Linked DNA regions of Homo sapiens: region 2 is reported to be linked to region 1. Evidence: microRNA targets listed by miRTarBase, many of them from high-throughput screens and not tested one by one. Region 1 holds a microRNA gene; the other region holds the end of a gene's coding sequence.
The links. Region 1 holds the annotated microRNA hsa-miR-3919 (GCAGAGAACAAAGGACUCAGU, at 1,958-1,978, opposite strand). A microRNA usually pairs through its seed, bases 2 to 8, with sites in the 3' UTR of a target mRNA and lowers its output. Matches are read on the target gene's strand: a 7mer-m8 pairs with bases 2 to 8, a 7mer-A1 pairs with bases 2 to 7 and ends in A, and an 8mer does both.

Region 1 (4,529 bases):
TAAAGAAAAAAAAATACAAAAATTAGCCGAGTGTGGTGGCGTACACCTGTAATCCCAGCTACTCAGAAGGCTGAGGCAGGAGAATCGTTTTAACCCGGGAAGCAGAGGTTGCCCTGAGCTGAGATTACACCACTGCACTCCATTCTGAGTAACAGAGTGAGACTCCATCTCAAAAAAACAAAACAAAACACCTAAAGTTAACAGGCAAACTAAATATTACATTAAAATATCAAAGTGTATTAATTAGAAAATACAGAATTGATTAACACAATAGCTGATTCTTATAAAATTTCAATTAACAAAATTATAAATATTAAAAGTAATAAAGGAGTATGCAGAGAGAAATTTTAAACAAAATAATATGATAGTTAATCTCAAGATATTCACTTATATATCTTGGAAAGTAAGTAGCAGAATTTACTTATGATATTGTAGAAAACCTGAATATCTAATAACCATGGAAGAAATGAAAATGTTATTTTAAAGTATTTATAAGAAAAGACATTGTGGCTGTACGGTTTTATCAAGAATTTTTTTCAAACTTTCAAGGAACATGTAATTACCATGCTATATGAAATTAGAGACCAAAGGAAAATCTAGGAAGCTTTTCATTTTACGAAGCTTGCACAGCCCTGATTCAAACTTGAAAGAAATACAAACTACAGGTGAATTTCGTTTTTAAGCAGAGATGTAAAAACTTAAACAACATACCATAAAATAGAAATAAAAAGCAACATATAAAGAACTACCCGTTAAAACCAAACAGCAATACCACAATGCAAGAACAGACCATAACTCATCGCATCAACTATGGATAATAAGACAACCTATTTTGCTTAGGTTGAATTTTCTAATCAATACAATAAGACTTTTGGAAAGGAAGAGGCAATTTAGTATTATTTGCAGTTGAGAAAATTACATGGTTAACAACCTCGAAAGAATCCACTAAAAAAATTCTGAAGTACTATTAAGAGATTTTAATAAATTGAAAAGATACAAATCAATACAACAAAAAGCCATCGCTTCCTATATTATAGTAATAACCAATTAGAGGTGGAACAAAAGGAAGGAAATAGCCAGGCGCGGTGGCTCACGCCAAGATCGCGCGCCATTGCACTCCAGCCTGAGCAACAAGAGCGAAACTCCGTCTCAAAAAAAAAAAAAGGAAATAATCCATAATCCATGTACATAGGAACAATCATAGTAAGTAAAGTAAAAAATATGCCGGGCATGATGGTTCACGCCTGTAATCCCAGCAGTTTGGGAGGCCAAGGCGGGCGGCGGATCACCTGAGGTCAGGAGTTCGAGACCAGCCTGGCCAACATGGTGAAACCTCGTCTCTACTGAGAATACAAAAATTAGCCGGGCATGGTGGCATGGGCCTGTAATCCCAGCTACTCGGGAAGCTGAGGCAGGAGAATCACTTGAACCCAGGAGGCGGAGGTTGCAGTGAGCTGAGATCATACCACTGCATTCCAGCCTGAGCGACAGAGTGAGACTCCGTCTCAAAAAAAATAAAAAATATAAAACATATGAAATTTCAAATCTTTCCTGATATCTATATCTATTCGTGTTCTTATGCATATTTAGGTCCTTATCAATATTTATTTATCTACACAGCGTTCCTAGATGGTAAGAACAAATTTGCAAAGGTATCAGTTCTTATATTAGTTTACAGATTTGATGCAATTGCTATTAAAGTCTCTAAATAATTTCTTAACTATACAATTGTAGAGTTTATCTGGAATGAGTCTGACCATCCAAGAACATGAAAATATATGAAGTGGAGAATTCCCTGCTAGATATTAAAATTCATCATATAAATGTAATATTTAAGACAGTAAAATATAGGTACTAGAATAGACATGTGAAACCATGTCTATTCATGAAGGTAGTTCAGAAACAGATTCTAATGGATTTATTTTTAACATATGGTAAAGATTCCTGAGCACCATTTACTGAGTCCTTTGTTCTCTGCTACGAACTACTACAAACTAGTAGAGAACAAAGGACTCAGTAAATGGTGCTCAGGTAAAGGGTTAACTACTTGGAATAAAATAAGACTATTATTTCTCATTATGCCATACACCAAAATTTCAATGAACTTAAGACAAATGATAAAGTTGAAACCAGTTTTCAAAAAACACAAAAATATATAGGTGAATGGGATACTAAGTAGGTTTTATTTCCAAAAAAAAATTTAAAATTCTAAAGATTGAAATATGCAATCTAGGAAAATATATCTCACATATACGAATGCAAAAGCTTAATAATATATACGTAATATTTAACACATAAAATCTCAGTGAAACAATAGACAATTCACAGAATAAGTCAACATGGCCACAAAATGTGAAAATGTTAAGCCTCAACAACTAAAAAAGAAATTCAGGTTTTAAACACAGGCCACTTTCAATCTATTAAATTAACAGAACTAGCACAACAGTTCTAGGGATGTAACAATATATATCAATATCCTTAAAAATGTTATATAAATTTTTATTATACTTACAGTAATCTCTTGTAAGGAAACAAAAATATGAAAATATATGAACACTCAATGTTGACATTGATAACTATAGTGGCATAGTTCAATAAATTATATGTCTATGTGATTTCATATTACTCATTCACACTGTACCATAAAACTTTAAGAAATTTTAATGACACAGAAATTAAAATATTAAGTTTTTAAAAGCACAGTGAAAAATGTTGAAAATATGTTTAAGAGCTATATTTATATATATTCATACTAATACCTAGTGTATACACATTTCGGAATCTCCAAGGAAATTCACTGAAATGTTAACAATAGGGGTCTTTGTTGGATTAATGGTGAGATATATTTTTTAACATTTCATATTTTCTAAAATGAATATACACATTACAACGATAAATGAATAGGCATTGCTATAAAATGAGACAGAGAATATTACAATGTAGTTTAGAAACAATGCCATTCAAAATGTGTTGACTGAAAAAAAAGTAACCGTCCATTATTGATAGATTTCATTTATACAGAAGCCTCATTTCCTGTCAGTTTTTGATAAATTAGTGATCACTGTACTTTGCTCTAAAATGTAAATAGCTCCCTTCTTCCACTGACACAGCACAGATTTGTAGGTCTTCATGAAAATACAAAATGTACATACATTAAGAAGTGTAAGCACATTCATTCAAAACTATACTTTTTAGCTCTTGACACTGAAAATTTATCATCTTTTAATATATAAAGCATATTATTTTTTAAATATATGTGCATATGTGTTTTAGGCGCATATGTGGAATCCTATGTATTTGAAAATAATTCTTGTCCAAATAAAGTAAACCACTTAGAATATTTCGGTGTAATTATGATCACATAGCTTAAACATTAATTACAGGGAATGAATAAATGTTTCCCCAGATTCTAGCAGGTCTTCCTGCCTTTCTCTTCCTTCCAAAATCCCAAAATGAAGTTCCAAGAGGATGTATTTCTTTTTCCTAGCTTCTAATTAGCCCAGTCTTTGGTTTAGTTGGCAAGGGCGACTTTTGCATAAGCAATAGCTCTCTTTCAAAAAAGACTGATGTGGGAGATTGTGAAAGACCTATAAAGGTCCTGTGATCTTCAGTAGGGTCCATCCAAGCACCCAAACAGAAGCCTCCACAGCCACGATTGCCCCACATGTCACATAGGGAATGTATTTAACACATGCAATCGTGGATTACTCCCTTCCCATCATCCCTTTTCTACTGGCACAAGTCAGAGGTGCTGTTCCAAGTAGAAAATGTGGGTTTGCACAGCAATTTAGAGTGTGCATTGCTTTTTTGTCTGTTTGTGGGACACTGGAAGATAGGCCTGGCACAGTTCATCCTTCGCAAGTGCTTAATGCCATCCCTGGGGACAGGAATATCACAAGCCCAGAAAAACACAGCTTTTAGCCACTTGGTGTTGAAAATTTCAGGCAAAATTCCAAAAGCCCTCAAAGCTAATGTTGAATTGACAAAGTGCCAAAACCTCTCTGGCATTAAATTTCCACTCTTTATTTTCCCCCTTCAGGTTAACAGCTTGTGAAAATAATAATGTGATAATGCCACCCTGTGTTCCAAATATCTCGAAGCACGATCTTGTTAAGCTTTCGTGTCCCTTTGAGACTAACGGGAATTGAGCCGACTTATTCATTTTACAGATGAGAAAACCCTCCAGGAGATGAGTCAAATGTCTGAGCGATGGCCCTGCAACTTATCACATAGGTCCCAGGTCTAGATTAAATTCTCCAAACAAGGCCAAGTGTTCTAGGAAAGGACCTGAAAAGCTCAGCTAGCATCAAAAAGGGCCAGAGAAAGATTCATAGAGATTACTAGGCAGGCTAGTATAATAAACCAGTGAAAGTGGTGGAAACACACATTCCAGGAGGGGCAACAAGGCATAGTCTAGGCATAGCAATAAAGCATAGTCTAGGCATGTGGCCAACTGGAGTCAACAAGAATCACCATGGTCATCAGAAGATCTAATGTGACATCAGGGGCATTTTACAACATCAGGGACA
Region 2 (4,000 bases), not on the chromosome of region 1:
GACCTCCTGATTTCAGGTGATCCACTGGCCTCGCCCTCCCAAAATGCTGGGATTACATGTGTGAGCCACCTCGCCTGGCCTCTCTTCTATCTTTCTTCTCCTTCCTCCGTTCGCTCATCTCCCCTCTGCTCCCCTCTTCTCTCCTCCCCAACCCAGAGCAGTCTCTGCCCCAGGACCAGCTTTTCTTTGAAGAGAGCCCTAGGGGAGATCAGCCCTCAGGTCTGATGGGATCCTGGGGAGGGGGCTGTGGGCACCCCACTGTGCCCCAGAGTTCTGGGTGAGTTTGGGGGGCAGGGGGCAGAGGGCATCAGAGGACAGCCGCCTGGTGCCCATGCCATACTTTTGCCTCAGCCACCAGGTGCAGGTGAAGGAGGAGCCAGCAGAGGCAGAGGAAGACAGGCAGCCCGGGCCTCCCCTGGGCGCCCCTAACCCCAGCGCCTCGGGGCCTCCGGAAGACAGGGACCTGGAGGAGGAGCTGCCGGGAGAAGAACTGTCCTAAGGGCCTGTAGTGACCGGCAGGGCTGGGGTGAGACCCCTCCCTTCCAGAATCCAGGCCCCATCTCCCCCAACTCCACAGCCCCTCCCGAGCCTCAAGGCAAGTCCAGGACTCAGACCGGGGAGGCCCGGGCCAGCAGCTCCCAGTGTGACCTGACAAAAACACGTAGGGGCAGGGACGGTCCCCACCCCCAGGGACACAACCCCTGGTCTTGGACCAGTAGAGGACACGGAGGGTTCAGACCCCTCCTCAGACCCTCCCCACATCTGAAACTGCCTCCCCCCAACCACCAGCAGCAGCAGGGCCCTCCTCCCCCACCAGCTCTCCCCACAGGGCCCCTCAGCATCATGGAGACCCGCAGGCGGGGCTTAGCCACCCCTCAAACCCAGGGCCCCCTGGCACCTGGCTCTGGCCGTGTTTTCTGGCCAGAGGCCCCCACTTTCCTAACTCGTGCTCCCTTCCGCCTTCTTTTCCGTACTGTGAAGAAAGAACTCTCCACCCCAGCTCCCACCCTGCCCTGGCCTGGGTGGAGGAACTGTGCCTCCATCCCCAGAAGAAACAGCCCCCTCTGCTGCTGGGGTGGGACTGTCTGTGTGCCCTGTGGGGGTCCGTGTGAGCAGGCCCACCTGGCTCCAGACCCGCCCCCAACCTGAGACAGAACCAGGCTGAGCCAGGCCTCCACCCCCACCCCCGTTTGCTGGGGGCTCCTCCAGCCGCCCCCATGGGAAGAGGCCTGGTACCGCCTCACCCACAGAGGTCTGTGCCAGGTGCGCTTCTGCAGGTGGAGCCAAGCTCTCCCTGAGGCCAGAGGCGGGGCCTGGGCCGGGAGCCCAGGGGAAGGCCAGGCTGGACCCCGGCTCCACACCCACATCCAGCCTGCAGGCCTCTCTGCAGTCCTCTCACCCTCCCTCAGCTCCCCTTCCTCTGCAGTCACCCTCAGCTCCCCTTCCTTGCCCGCCTCTCCCCCCGCCGCCCCACCAGTTAAACGGATGACCAAAGACCTTTCTTATGCCGGAAGCAAAAACCAAAACTTTTTGTTGGCTTTTTCCTTTGTCGCCTCCCCAGCACCTGCCCTCCCAGTCTCCCACCCCGGCCCCAGGCTGGAAGCCCTCCCTCCACTTAAGTTATTGTTTTAAACCAAAGTTTACAGTGTCTGTTGGTGGCCAAGACCTTCTCTCTCCACCCCTCCTCCATCCACCCTGAGGACCCTGGGGCTCAGTGGAGGCAGGGCCCTGCCCCCCTCCCTTCCGCTCCTGCCCAGCCTGGGGGAAGGAGAAAGGAGGGGAGAAAGCGGGCTCTCACCCCCTCAGGAGTGGGCACGGGAGCCCTTCTCCCTGACCCTGGGCTGCTTCCTGGGGGCTCTCCAGACCCCTCTCTAGGACCAAGTCACCCGTCGTGCTGGGAGTGTGGATTCTAGCAAAAGAGCTGGAAAAAAGTCAGACTCTCCACAGACCCCCTATGGGGGACCCCCAACTCAAGGCCAAGGACTGGGCGTATCGGATGCTCATAACACCCCTGGCCTGGCCCCTTTACTGAGAAGACTCCTTGGATATTTCCCAAGAACCCCCCACATACACCCCTCACAAGCCACCCCTCCTGAGAGGCAGGGGGCCCTCCGCCCCCTCCCCATGTATTCCCCACCTGTGTTCCGTTTGACCAGCACAGAAATATTAAACGTCCTCTATTCACCGGGCCCTGTGTGTGTCACCGAGGTGCGGGAGGGGAGGAGCATTAAAGCTGAAAGATCGCTCTGCTCGGGGAGCCTGGGCAGAGCAGCAGCAACGTGAGGGTCGCTGTGGTGGTGGTTTCTGTGAGTGGATGGAATGAGCAGCCCTGCAGGGGCGCTGGGCATGTGCCCTCACTGTGGACAGGGCCCACCCACCTCCGGTTCCCCTGTGCCTCCTGTCCCTTCCACGCTTAAACAGGGTTCTCTGTCATTTTCCTGTTTTCTTCCAGAGTCCCAATCCTTTGCCCTAGTTCTTTCACTAGTTTGAAATCCAAGTTCTTGCCAGAGTGTTGGAGCAAGGCAGCTGATTTGCTGCAGGGATGGAGAGGACCACCGCCGCAGGGTTCTTTTACCTGTGCCACCAGCTCTGGAGACATCCACACCCATTCCCAGGTGTCCTTCCAGGCCCATTGTCCACGTCTTCAAGGGGGCTGCCTGGATAGGCGTGTGTGTGTGTAGTGCCCAGGTGTGGTGGTGGCATCCTGAAGCAGTAGGACCATTAGTGTGCGTGCACACCCACGTGGCACACTGTGTGGTGACCATGGTCATCATAGTGGGCTCACGGCGGAAACGGGATCATTCAACCTATACAAAGGGGACCCTGGATAGGCTGCAAGGAAAGAGGCCAAGGGCCAAGCTGCTAAGCCAAAGATGGCCCCTGACACCTCCCCCAGCCCCAGCACACCAGCCTGCACCTCTTATCCCGTGTTAAGTCCTGGTTCCCCACCTGCTGCCCCTCCTCAACACAGAGCCCCTCCCGCCGCCTCAGACCCCTGTGCACATCCCCAGGGCCTCAGCCGTCTCATTGGTCTTTATTTTTTATTTTTTTTAAGATGGAGTTTCGCTCTTATTGCCCAGACTGGAGTGCAGTGATGCTATCTCGGCTCACTGCAACCTTTGCCTCCCAGGTTCAAGTGATTCTCCTGCCTCAGCCTCCCAAGTAGCTGGGATTACAGGCGTGCACCACCACGCCGGGCTAAATTTTTTTGTATTTTTAGTAGAGACGGGGTTTCTCTATGTTGGTCAGGCTGATCTCGAACTCCCGACCTCAGGTGATCCGCCAGCCTCAGCCTCCCAAAGTGCTGGGATTACAGGCGTGAGCCACTGCACCCGGCTCTCACTGGTCTTACGCCACCTTCTGGACACTCCCTCCTTGAGGGCAGAAAGGAGTCCCAGGCCTGTCCCTAGGGACAAGGCCCAGGGAAGAGTGTATTTGGGGAGCAGGGGAGGGGAGGGTGTTGAGAAAGCTGAACTGGAGTCAATCACCCTTCCCACAAATCACCAAACTGCTGGAACTCTCCAGCCAAATGCTGGGAGAAGGACCTGGAGGGTGAGTCTTTGCTGACCTCTCTCTACTCTCAGGCATGTCTTTTGTCCTTTTCGTCCATCTATTTCTGTCTGTCGCTCACTCGCCCCGCTTTCTCTGTCTCACCTTCATCCACTCTGCAGGCCTGCTCCACCACAGCCCTAATCCTCTGGACGCTTGTGTAGGGCCTGGGGTGAATTCCCTGTCCCCCATGGTACCTCGAGAGGGGCTGGGGAGCTCAGCTTGGTCTCAGAGTCTCCCCACCAGATACTGTTTAAAAAAGTAGCACTGATGTGTTTTGTAATCTGCCCCTCCCAGCCCTCCGTGGAGGCTGCCAGGGCCTTGTACGGTAAACCTAGCTGCATGTAATCTGTGGACAATGGCATTCTCTACAATGCAATAAAAACAATTACCCATGATTTTGCTGCGGCCGCTTCCCCTTTCCCCTTCTTCCCCTCCCAGCTGGGACCTA

Region 2: miRTarBase lists FOXP4 as a target of hsa-miR-3919. Seed matches in the 3' UTR shown: 7mer-m8 at 2,424-2,430 and 7mer-m8 at 3,642-3,648.

The regions. Positions count from the first base shown.
Region 1 is chr3:159,280,149-159,284,677 of GRCh38, reverse strand. It overlaps MIR3919 (microRNA 3919), which reads right to left and starts at 2,032; the gene lies at 1,944-2,032. The region is part of intron 4 of IQCJ-SCHIP1 (IQCJ-SCHIP1 readthrough); the gene reads right to left. The region is part of intron 1 of SCHIP1 (schwannomin interacting protein 1); the gene reads right to left.
Region 2 is chr6:41,598,438-41,602,437 of GRCh38, forward strand. It overlaps FOXP4 (forkhead box P4), which reads left to right. Exons shown (of 17, transcript NM_001012426.2): 17 at 352-3,947. The coding sequence ends at 499. MIR4641 (microRNA 4641) reads left to right here and starts at 286; the gene lies at 286-351. RefSeq lists enhancers at 1-387, 388-971.